Homo sapiens: one gene and its partner. The protein of the gene in region 1 interacts with the protein of each later gene in a biochemical or structural test. Each region holds a gene or a part of one and is shown on either strand. Other genes may lie near its edges.

What was found. Proteins that work in one complex are often made in the same cells at the same time.
Region 2: the proteins of ETV1 (region 1) and KAT2B form a complex in vitro, tested with the Homo sapiens proteins (one study listed by BioGRID).

Annotation. Positions count from the first base shown.
Region 1 is NC_000007.14:13,932,921-13,938,510, forward strand, and holds part of ETV1 (ETS translocation variant 1), read right to left. Parts: intron 2,977-5,590; coding exon 2,788-2,976; intron 1-2,787. UniProt on the Homo sapiens protein: Transcriptional activator that binds to DNA sequences containing the consensus pentanucleotide 5'-CGGA[AT]-3'. Required for olfactory dopaminergic neuron differentiation; may directly activate expression of tyrosine hydroxylase (TH).
Region 2 is NC_000003.12:20,042,402-20,046,945, forward strand, and holds part of KAT2B (histone acetyltransferase KAT2B), read left to right. Parts: intron 1-4,544. UniProt on the Homo sapiens protein: Functions as a histone acetyltransferase (HAT) to promote transcriptional activation. Has significant histone acetyltransferase activity with core histones (H3 and H4), and also with nucleosome core particles.

The DNA.
Region 1 (5,590 bases):
TCCTGTGATTTAACTCTAGGCTCACTGGTGGTCATGGAAAGCACTGAAATTCCACCTACACCTGCAGAAAATAAACTTAGAAACTCGGATATTGCAGAGCAGTTAGGCTGACTGGCACTGCATTCATTTCCCTTCTCTTGCTTATTTCATTAGCCAAAAAAAGAAACAGAAATTATCATTAAGAACTGTCAAGGAGTGAATCAGAAAATTGTAACTTGAAGTTAAAATAAGAAACTGGCTCACTTGTGAAGCCTTAAAAGGAAGTTAATAATACTTGTAACTGAAAGCTTTGTAAGGAATCAAGCCATTTGTTTTTACGAGTCGACCTGATTCCAGTTGGAAGTTGCTGGGGAACATGTATATATCAAACACGCATGCTTCTCAGGAATTTGCAAGGTTTTGGTGCAATTCTTAGGAGCCACTGACCAATGGTAAAGAGAAAGTGATTCAAGAAGCTTCTGGAAAGGAGTTAACAGATAAGGAGAACATGCTGATGAACTCCCAGATAAAGAAAAACAGGGTGTAAGTGGTGGAAACACTGAGAAAGAGAGACAGGGCTCCTGCACAGTGGGTTCAGGAAAAAGTGCCAAAGGGCTGGCCCCAGGAGCAGAGTGAGGCTGAGGAAAGGAAGCAGGGTGCAGGCCAGTTGGCCGTAAAGCATTCCCAGAGTGAAGTGGGGTGCCTGGCTGGAGGGGGTGTTTTGGGGAAAGGATCTGTTCCCAGAGCAAATTTGCCATTTATAACTGAGGGACTGTCATTTGTTGGCCAGAGCCCTCTAAGAAATCCTCCTCAGAAACATACGGCTTTAGAGATTTTCCTGGGACTGGCCAGCTGGTACTGTCCTCAAAACTCAGTCAGGGGTCAGTGGGAAAAGACCCCGAGCTTCCCTCTTGGAGTTCCGGGCCGGCTGTTCTCAGTCTCAAATATCTGACTTCAAGTAGAGAAACTAAAATGAATTTGGCTAAAGCATTTCAAGTTAGGTCACCTAAAACCAGGCACACTGCTTATTCAGCAGGCACCTTCCCTAAGAAATAACCAGTTTGCACAAAAAGCGAATTATACAATCTATAATTCTGGCACTGATCAGAAGAGTGAGATTCAGTTATCAAGAACTCAGAAGTCACCAGTAGTGGAGAAAATAAAACTTGGTTTGTTCATATTTTTTTGTTCCCTTTCAGCTCTGCACAATGTCCATCTGTTTAATGGCCCACCCTGCAATAAGAATTCTTTCATCTGTATTTACAAAACTGTTTACACAGATGCACATACCATTGCACTCTGACAAAGTCTCAAGGCTACAGGGTGAGAAGAAAAAGATAATAGGAAGCATTTAATAACTACCCCACAAGAGGACTTAGTGATGGAACCAAGGGTGGAAAAGACAAGGCTTTGTATCACATTGTAAAGAACGCTTTCATCTTACGCCCTTTATAGCAAAATGAGTTTCTGAATTTGAGATTGAGTCCCATGAAAAAACCTATAAAAAGCACATTTGAGTGCTCCCTTATTTTCAGAAAGTTGCCAGTGGCACATCTTCTGCTTTCCTCTGCTGATCTAGAAGATTCCTTTGGCTGAGTTATTTTTACAACGGTGTCTCAGGGCCAGTTTGCACTGACTTATTGTCAAACTTGCAGGAATTTTTTGAGCCAGTTCTTAAACACAGCCACTATTAACAGTTAAATTATATAACTTCACAATCAAAAAATATGTTAAAAACAGAAGATAAAAATGCAAAACTCATCACTTTCTAATTATCTTACTACATTTCATTACCAATTATACACCTGAGGTTACTTATGTCTCTGGTATCCGTATGCTAGAAATACTACATTACGCTGTGCTATTGCATCTTTGCAACTCGGCATTCAGGGTTCTCACAGTGATGGCTCGTAGTGGGCCATGAAAGCAATATGTACATCACAGACCCAGCAAAAGCTACTGATGAGGGCGTTTTGTTTTTCTCTCATGCAGGCTGTTGCTAAACATTTACCAGCACGCCACTGCATACAGAAGCACAGGGCAGAAGAGATAAAGAAGGAGAGATGCTGTATATAAGCAACCTGATTTTAAGCTGTATATTAAGGTAGTACATCTCAGAACCTCTACAGGTTTTATTTAGTATTTTACTTAAATATGAATTTCTTAATCTCAAGGAGTCATGAATTACCTAACGCAGTATTCTCCTTAGATCTATGCTATGCTTCTTGCCTTGCTCCTTTCTAAGTAATACTAATTGAGTCTCTATCTCTTTAATTGTATATTCGCAGTGTCCAGAGTCATGCGTCTACTGATATTAAATATTAATCACCTGGAAAAGATGGTCAACAGTTTTAATCAAATAAGTTATATTCTGCAAAACTATGTACAGCTGAACCATTCAATATAAGGTAGAAAACCTAATTCCATAAGCTACCTACTAAAATTAGTCTCCTAACTTTACAGAACAAGTACACACATATGCTCATAAAAATGGGATGATCTGATTTAAAGTTTAAGTGAAGCAATTTAATTCAAGCAAAGCGAAAGGGAAATGCTCAAATGTCAGTAGATAGATTAATTTTCCATTTTAGCAACCAATTTAAATGTTTATAAAAGGAATGTTTATAAATGACTTTCTCCACAAATTATAAGTATAGATAGAGTGAGCTCTTTCTAAAAATATTTTGCACAGATGTGCAAAATTAATAGGCTCACCTTAAATCTACTCTAGGCCTTCAGAATTGTTAATAGAAATTTTTTCCAAGAACGCAAAAAACAGTTTCTAGAAAACTGGTATCTGCAGGTTACCTGTGGTCCATGGGGTAGCTGCTATCTGGTATGGACTGCGATGGAGGGAGGTGAGCTGGGAAGGCCCGGTCAGGTTTCGGTGTATGAGTTGAGTTTGGAGATGCATGATGCAGTGGGGACACTGGCGTGCTGGATGGTGTGGGGGGGTTGGAGGGCCTCATTCCCACTTGTGGCTTCTGATCATAGGCACTACCCAGGGGACAAAAGAAGAGAGAACATTTCTTTCTTTGGAGCAATTTTTTAAAAAAGTTTCTAATCCAAAGGAAGAAAAGATATTTTAGACTTAAGTCAAATGGAAATGAAAACTTTGTTGTTGCTATTGTTGTTTAAATCCAGAACAGATAAACTTCAAAATCACAACACCCTTAAACAGAAAATAGGATGATTAATGCAAAACCTTGTAACAGAACAAATATTAAATGTGTATTTTTAATGCATATACAAACAACTTAGTACAGGGAAAATTACGTCCAAAAAAGCAGTGGTATTTTTTCCATCTATTCTTGATATATCTATTTGAGAAAGTTTGATAGATCTTTCCTAAATCATTAAATACTTCTGATATTATATTCTTCTTTTATATTATGTAAGATTTTAAAACAAGAACTAACATCAGCTTAATAAGGCAGAGACCACACCTGGCTTGCTTTTATTTGTGGTGGGATTTTAAGAAGGCAATGCTTTTACTTTATTTTCATTTTATTATATTAAATAAATGATGCTTGGCATTAACTTCCCCACATGGGATAATGAAGATTAATGAGGTAAATTAAAATGTCTGATATATTTAAACTTTCTTAGAGAATAAGTAAAAAATAATGTCATTAGGAATAAAATCCTATTATAGTCTAACTTCTAAACACAGTTACAGAAGAATAAAATGAGTAAGCTTGATTTTACATTATGATTTTAAACTGCTTTCCTAGGTGTAACTTTCAGGAATGTGATTTAGCTAATTTTGGTCATCTATAAAATATTTTACTAAAACTAAATTTTCTTAAATTTTTTTTAACAACAGGGCATTTCTAAGTTAGAATGCTGTATTTCATTTTGCTGGGCGCAGTGGCTCATGCCCCTGATCCTAGCACTTTGGGAGGCTGAGGTGGGAGGATCGCTTAAGCACGGGAGTTTAAGACCAGCCTGAGCAACATGGTGAAACCCCGTCTCTACTAAAAATACAAAAAATTAGCTGGGCGTGGTGATGCATGTCTGTAGGCTCAGATATTCACGAGACTGAGGTGAGAGGATCGCTTGAACTCGGGAGGCAGAGGTTGCAGTGAGCCCAGATTGTGCCACTGCACTCCAGCCTGGCTGACAGAGTGAGACCCTGTCTCAAAAAAAAATAAGTAAAATAAAATAAAAAGCAATCATCAGTACACTTTTTTCTTTAGAAAGAAATATTTCTTTTTGAATTAAATTATGTAATAATTTATTCTGTTGCTCCATCAATGCAACGGAATTATATCCAGCTGCAAAAATCTTTTACAAGGAGTAAAGGAATATATGCTGCACAAGGCAGCTCTTGCTTCAAAGCAAAGTCAACAGTGTTCATATAATGAATTGCATGTTTGGTTCCACCTATGTTCTTTACCAGTATTTCTGAAGAAAAACCCACTTCTTTTGTGAAATGGTTCACCTAACTCATTCTCATGAATGAAGAAACAAATGATACTATTCCCCCATGAAATGCTGTACTCAATAATATTTTCTGTATAGCGATGGAAGTACCAGAATTTATTGCATATGCCATATATCACTGTGGGGACTTTTCATCCCCCAAAAGAAACACAAAATATTCAGGCAATTCCTTTATTATTGATTTGTGGATGTCAGATATGGCATATAAAACAGTGATGATTTCACAGTCACAATTCTGATTAATGCTGAAAGGCAATGACAATTCTATATCTAACTGCCATTGACTAGAAATTCCTCAATATGTTAAATAATTATGCTGTGGATACACAGTACTTGTAAGGAGAAAATGCAAAAACAAAACTAAACTATAAAATAAAACTCAGATCGATCAATACTGTCTTATCTGAACTCATTATGCTTTAATAGTTACCTTCTACAAGAGACCTTTTTTATAAAACTTTGCAGTTTCAATTGAGCTAGCTCATAATTTCAGGCTCTGGTGAACCTCTTAGAAAAGCAAATATAAAAGACAAGTTTGCAAGAACAAATGGTAATAAAATATCTGAGCATTGGTCAGCTGCCATAATGGCACAAGTCTATGTTTCTCTTTTATTTTTGAGATGGAGTCTCGCTCTTGTTGCCCAGGCTGGAGTGCAATGGCGCGATCTCGGCTCACAGCAACCTCCACCTCCCAGGTTCAAGCGATTCTCCTGCCTCAGCCTCTGTAGTAGCTGGGATTACAGGCATGCGCCACCATGCCCAGCTAATTTTGTATTTTCAGTAGAGACGAGGTTTCTCCGTGTTGGTCAGGCTGGTCTTGAACTCCCGACCTCAGGTGATCCGCCCAACTCTGCCTCCCAAAGTGCTGGGATTATAGGCATGAGCCACTGCGTCTGGCCTATGTTTCTAGAATCTTACATATCTTGGACATAAACAGCGTATGCAATAAATATCTGAGGAATTATTTAATAGAAGACCCCTTTGGGTCATAATGTACAATGAATCTGAATTGATATAACTTATAAAACAGTATGAATATTTGGAATAATTTGTGTAAGTTTGCAAACTAACTTCTTTTAAGAACTAAGTTTCTACTGTAATTGAGAGTGATAATACTCAGTAGAGACAGCCAACTTTTTCTTTATGCAATTAAAGGCCAATATGA
Region 2 (4,544 bases), on another chromosome or scaffold:
CAGAAGGGCGAGCTATGTACAGAATTAAGAACAAGGTCATGGGTACAGGGCATACTGCTTGGGTGATGACTACACCAAAATCTCACAAATCACCATTAAAGAACTTATGTAATCAAACACCACCTGTTCCACAAAAACCTATGAAAAAAAAGAGCAAGGTCAATTACTTGGTGGCCTTGGCGTTTCGCAGCCAAAGTGGGCTCATGCAGGAACTGTCTCAACTCAGTGTTTCTGTTCTGGCTTTATTTTAAAATTTATTTATTGGGTTCTCATCACCAGCACCTCTTAAAGACTTCCTGCTGCCTGCTGTAGCTTTAATATCTGAAAACTTTCCTGAAGTTTTGGTTTTGTCTAAAACCATGAGCATATGTGGCCTGCATTGATATTTTTGATCTTTTCAAATTTCCATGGGTGAGATGTAGCACCACTTCCAAGTGGGATTTGAGTGTTTCCTGGTCACTTTCATGACCCAACAAGAGAAAGAGAAAATTTATTTTAACGTCTTTTTTTTTTTTTGAGACAGGGTCTCACTCTGCCACGTAGGCTGGAGTGCAGTGGCATGATCGTAGCTCACTGCAGACTCAACCTCCCTGGGCTCAGGTGATCCTCCTACATCAGCCTCTTGAGTAGCTGGGACTACAGGCATGCGCCAGTACACTATTATTATTATTATTTGTATTCTTTGTAGAGATAGGGTTTCACCTTGTTGCCCAGGCTGTTCTCAAACTCCTGAGCCCAAGCAATTTGCCCGCCTTGCTTCCCAAAGTGCTGAGATTATAGGCATGGGCCACCATGCCTGGCTGAAAGTGTTCATTTTTATGTATCCATTCATTCAGTAAATATTTAGAGGGTTACCAACTGGGTGTCAGGCATTGGGCTAGGTGCTGGGCCTATGACACACAGAATTTGTCCTTCAGGAGTTACTTATTGTGTGTGTGCACAAGTGCATGTGTGTGTATGCATGTGTTGGGGGCCTAGGGATGAGGGCAGTGAACCAAAATTACAGAGAAGTTCAGAAAAACTACTTTCTTGGAGTAGTTGCGGACCCAGAGCAGGACAGTTCATAGACTGGGGCACTGGTAGGGTGGGATTGGCTTCCTGGAGGAAGTGTCAGTGGCTGCTAAGAACTCTTGGCAGGGCAGAGTGGGGTGGGGTGAAGCTTCTTGTAGTGGAGAAACTGAAAGCAGTTGTGGAAGCTTGGAGGTGGGCCAACTGAGCCAGACCTTTGTTGCCTAGGGCCACCGGCTGGGGTGCGTGGCCAAGAGGGCACTGAGGAGTGCAGGAATCTTAACCTGGAGAGTGACATTATCTCAGATTTGCTTTTTTTAAAAAAAAAAAAAATTTAACTGGACTTGATTGGGTACGAGGGAGTGTAAGAGAGCAAAATCTGTGGTTCTCTCTCAGCTTGTTTCTGCACTTAATATGAGCAAGCCCAAAAGGACAGATTGCTCTACCTTTGCCACAGGCCCCTTGGCAAGTTAGATTAGAGAGATTAGAGAATGAGGAGGGATCTAGAAAGAGATAAGGTAGTTCACTGGGGGGCTTTTGAAAGAAAAACAGGTCCCAGGCCTGATATAAATCTGGCCTTTAAACTTCACAAACGAAACCAAAAAAGAAGGGAGCTAAGTCAGCCAGGGTGACGTGCCACACCCCAGAGAATAGAAAAAGAAAAAAAAAAAAGAAAAAAGAAAAGAAACAAACAAACTTGTTTCGCAGGATCCAGATCTTTGAACTGTGTCCTGGTAAAGGTTGCTTCAGAGTCATTTTGGTTCTGTGTTCATTAAAAATGTAGATCTAGGCCAGGCGCAGTGGCTCAGACCTGTAATCCCAGCACTTTGGGAGGCCGAGGCGGGAGGATCACTTGAGTCCAGGAATTTGAGGCCATCCTGGGCAATATAGTGAGACTTCGTCTCTACAAAAAATAAAAAATTAACCAGGCGTGGTGGCAGAGGTTGCAGTGAGCTGTGATTGCACCGCTGTACTCCAGCCTGGGTGACAGAGCAAGATTCTCCCTAAAAAAAAAAATAAATAAATAAATAAAATAAAGTAGATCTGACCATGTTATACCCACACTTCAGGCCCTTTAATTTCTCTTTATTGTGGTCCACAAGGCCCTGCATGGCCTGGCTACTGCTATCTGTGGCTCCTTATCGAGGGTTCAGGCACATGGTTTCCTTTCACCTAGTCGGGGGTGAGGTGGGGTGAGGGGCTTTGCACATGCTGTTCACTGGGACTGGAAGCTCTTCTTTCCACATTTTAAAATTAACTCCCAACCCTTCCTATAGAACTCAGATTCCTTGCCTTTCCTTTACCCCCCTGAGCAGCCTTCCCATTAGAAATTATCCAAATTCATCTGTACTCTTCCTGGTGCTTATATTATGATTTTTATGATTTGTATGATTATTTGATGTGCATTTAGAATCTTTGAATAGATTCTTAGCCATGCGGTTATTGACTAAGCGAATGAACCAGAGAAGAGAAAATGGAAGAAATGATTAGCTGTGATGTTAGCAGTTGTGGAATTTTAACTTAATCACTTCTTGACAACTAAGTAGAGATTTGTCATATAGGACAGTTCTAGGTGTCCCACAGATATTGATAGGATTGGGTTATTTATTTATTTATTTTTTTGAGACAGGGTCTCGCTCTGTCACCCTGGCAGGAGTACAGTGGCGTGATCTTGGCTCACTGCAACCTGTACCTCCCAGGCTCAAGTGATCCTTCCACCTTAGCCTCCTGAGTAGCTGAGACCACAGGCATGCACCACCATACTTGGCTAATTTTTGTATTTTTTTTGGTAGAGATGGGGTTTCGCCATGTTTGCCAGGCTGGTTTCCAACTCCTGGGCTCAAGCAATCTGCCTGCCTCCACCTCCCAAAGCGCTGGGATTACAGGTGTGAGCCACTGCACCTGGCCTATTTATTTATTTATTTATTTATTTATTTATTTATTTATTTATTTATTTTAGAGACAGGGTCTTGCTCTGTTGCCCAGGATGGGGTACACTGGCACGATCATAGCTCACTGCAGCCTTGAACTCCTTGACTCAGGTGATCCTCCCACCTCAGCCTCTTGGGTAGCTGGGACTATAGGCCTGCACCACCATGCCTGCTTGGGATTGGGTTTTTAATGTTATAAAAGAAACCCCAAGTGAATGTATGAGTAGGCCAAATCCAAATCTTCTTGAATTAAAGTATATCATCTACTAACTTCAAAAGAGAAACAAAACCCATTGACTAACCCTTCCTAAAGGAGCAGGCCATTTATATTAATACGTAAGAGGAGGCAATAGGGTATAGTGGCTAAGAACATGGGCTTCAGAGTTCAGGCTAATCTGAATTCAAATTTTGGGATATCCAGCTCTGCAACCTTGGATAAGGATTTCATTTAAGCCTTTATTTCCCTGTCTGTAAAGGAATGATGTTACCCGCCTCATGGCATAACAGTGAGGATTTAAAATGGGCTGTATTAGACATCCAGCATGGTGTCTTGCCCATGGCAAGCCCTCAGAAGGTAGGGGAGACGCTGTTAACTTGAAAGTCAAGTAAGAGCAACAGACTCAGTCCTGAATCCACCCCAGCTCTGCCACTTGTGTGATCTTAGGCACAGGTCACTTAGTTTTTCTCTGAGCCTCAATGACTGCATGTATAAAGTGGTGATCATGACTTCAACCTTAAAGTTAAAAGAAAAAAGTGTCCCCAGAATTCCTAGAACATAAAGATGCTAGGTTAATGCTGGCTAAATAAACGGAATTGCCTGGTGCTTTACTCGTATATCAGAGTCAGTGGCCACAAAGCATTTATGGAGAACCCAGTTGCTTGGGTTCTCGGCAAGGTGCCACATTTAAGGAGTTTCATGGGTACAGGACTATAAAATTAGTCTTAATTGAAAAAATAGGCCCAGGGCATGGTGGCTTGTGCCTGTAATCCCAGCAGTTTGGGTGGCCAAGGCAGACGGATCACTTGAGCTCACGAGTTCGAGACCAGCCTGGGCAACATGGTGAAACCCTGTCTCTACAAAAATTACGAAAATTAGCCGGGCATGATGGTGCGTGCCTGTAGTCCCTAGCTACTCAGGAGGTTGAGGTGGGAGGATGGCTTGAGCCTGGGAGGCAGAAGTTACAGTGAGCTGAGATCATGCCACTGCACTAGACCTTGTCTCAAAATAATAATAATAATGATTTATAATCTAGAAGTAGCACTGGTTGTAGAATATACAGAGAGCAGAGGTAGATGTGCCACCACAAAACAAAAAGCATCCTCTGTTGGCTAAGGGCTGGTGGGTGGGGCACTAGAACAAGCCTTATAGTTGGAGAGCGCCCCCAACACCTTTGTATTTGTCAGTCACTCCCCCAGAGAGCAAATTGTCTTTTTCATTTGTCAGCATTTAGAGCAGTGGCTCTCACCCAGGAGCTATTTAACCTCCCAAGGGACATTTGACAATGTCTGGAGACATTTTCAATCTTTGCAGTTGGGAGGAGGGAATGCAACTGGCAACTAGTGAGTGGAGGCCAGTAATGTTGCTATACATCCCACAATGCACAG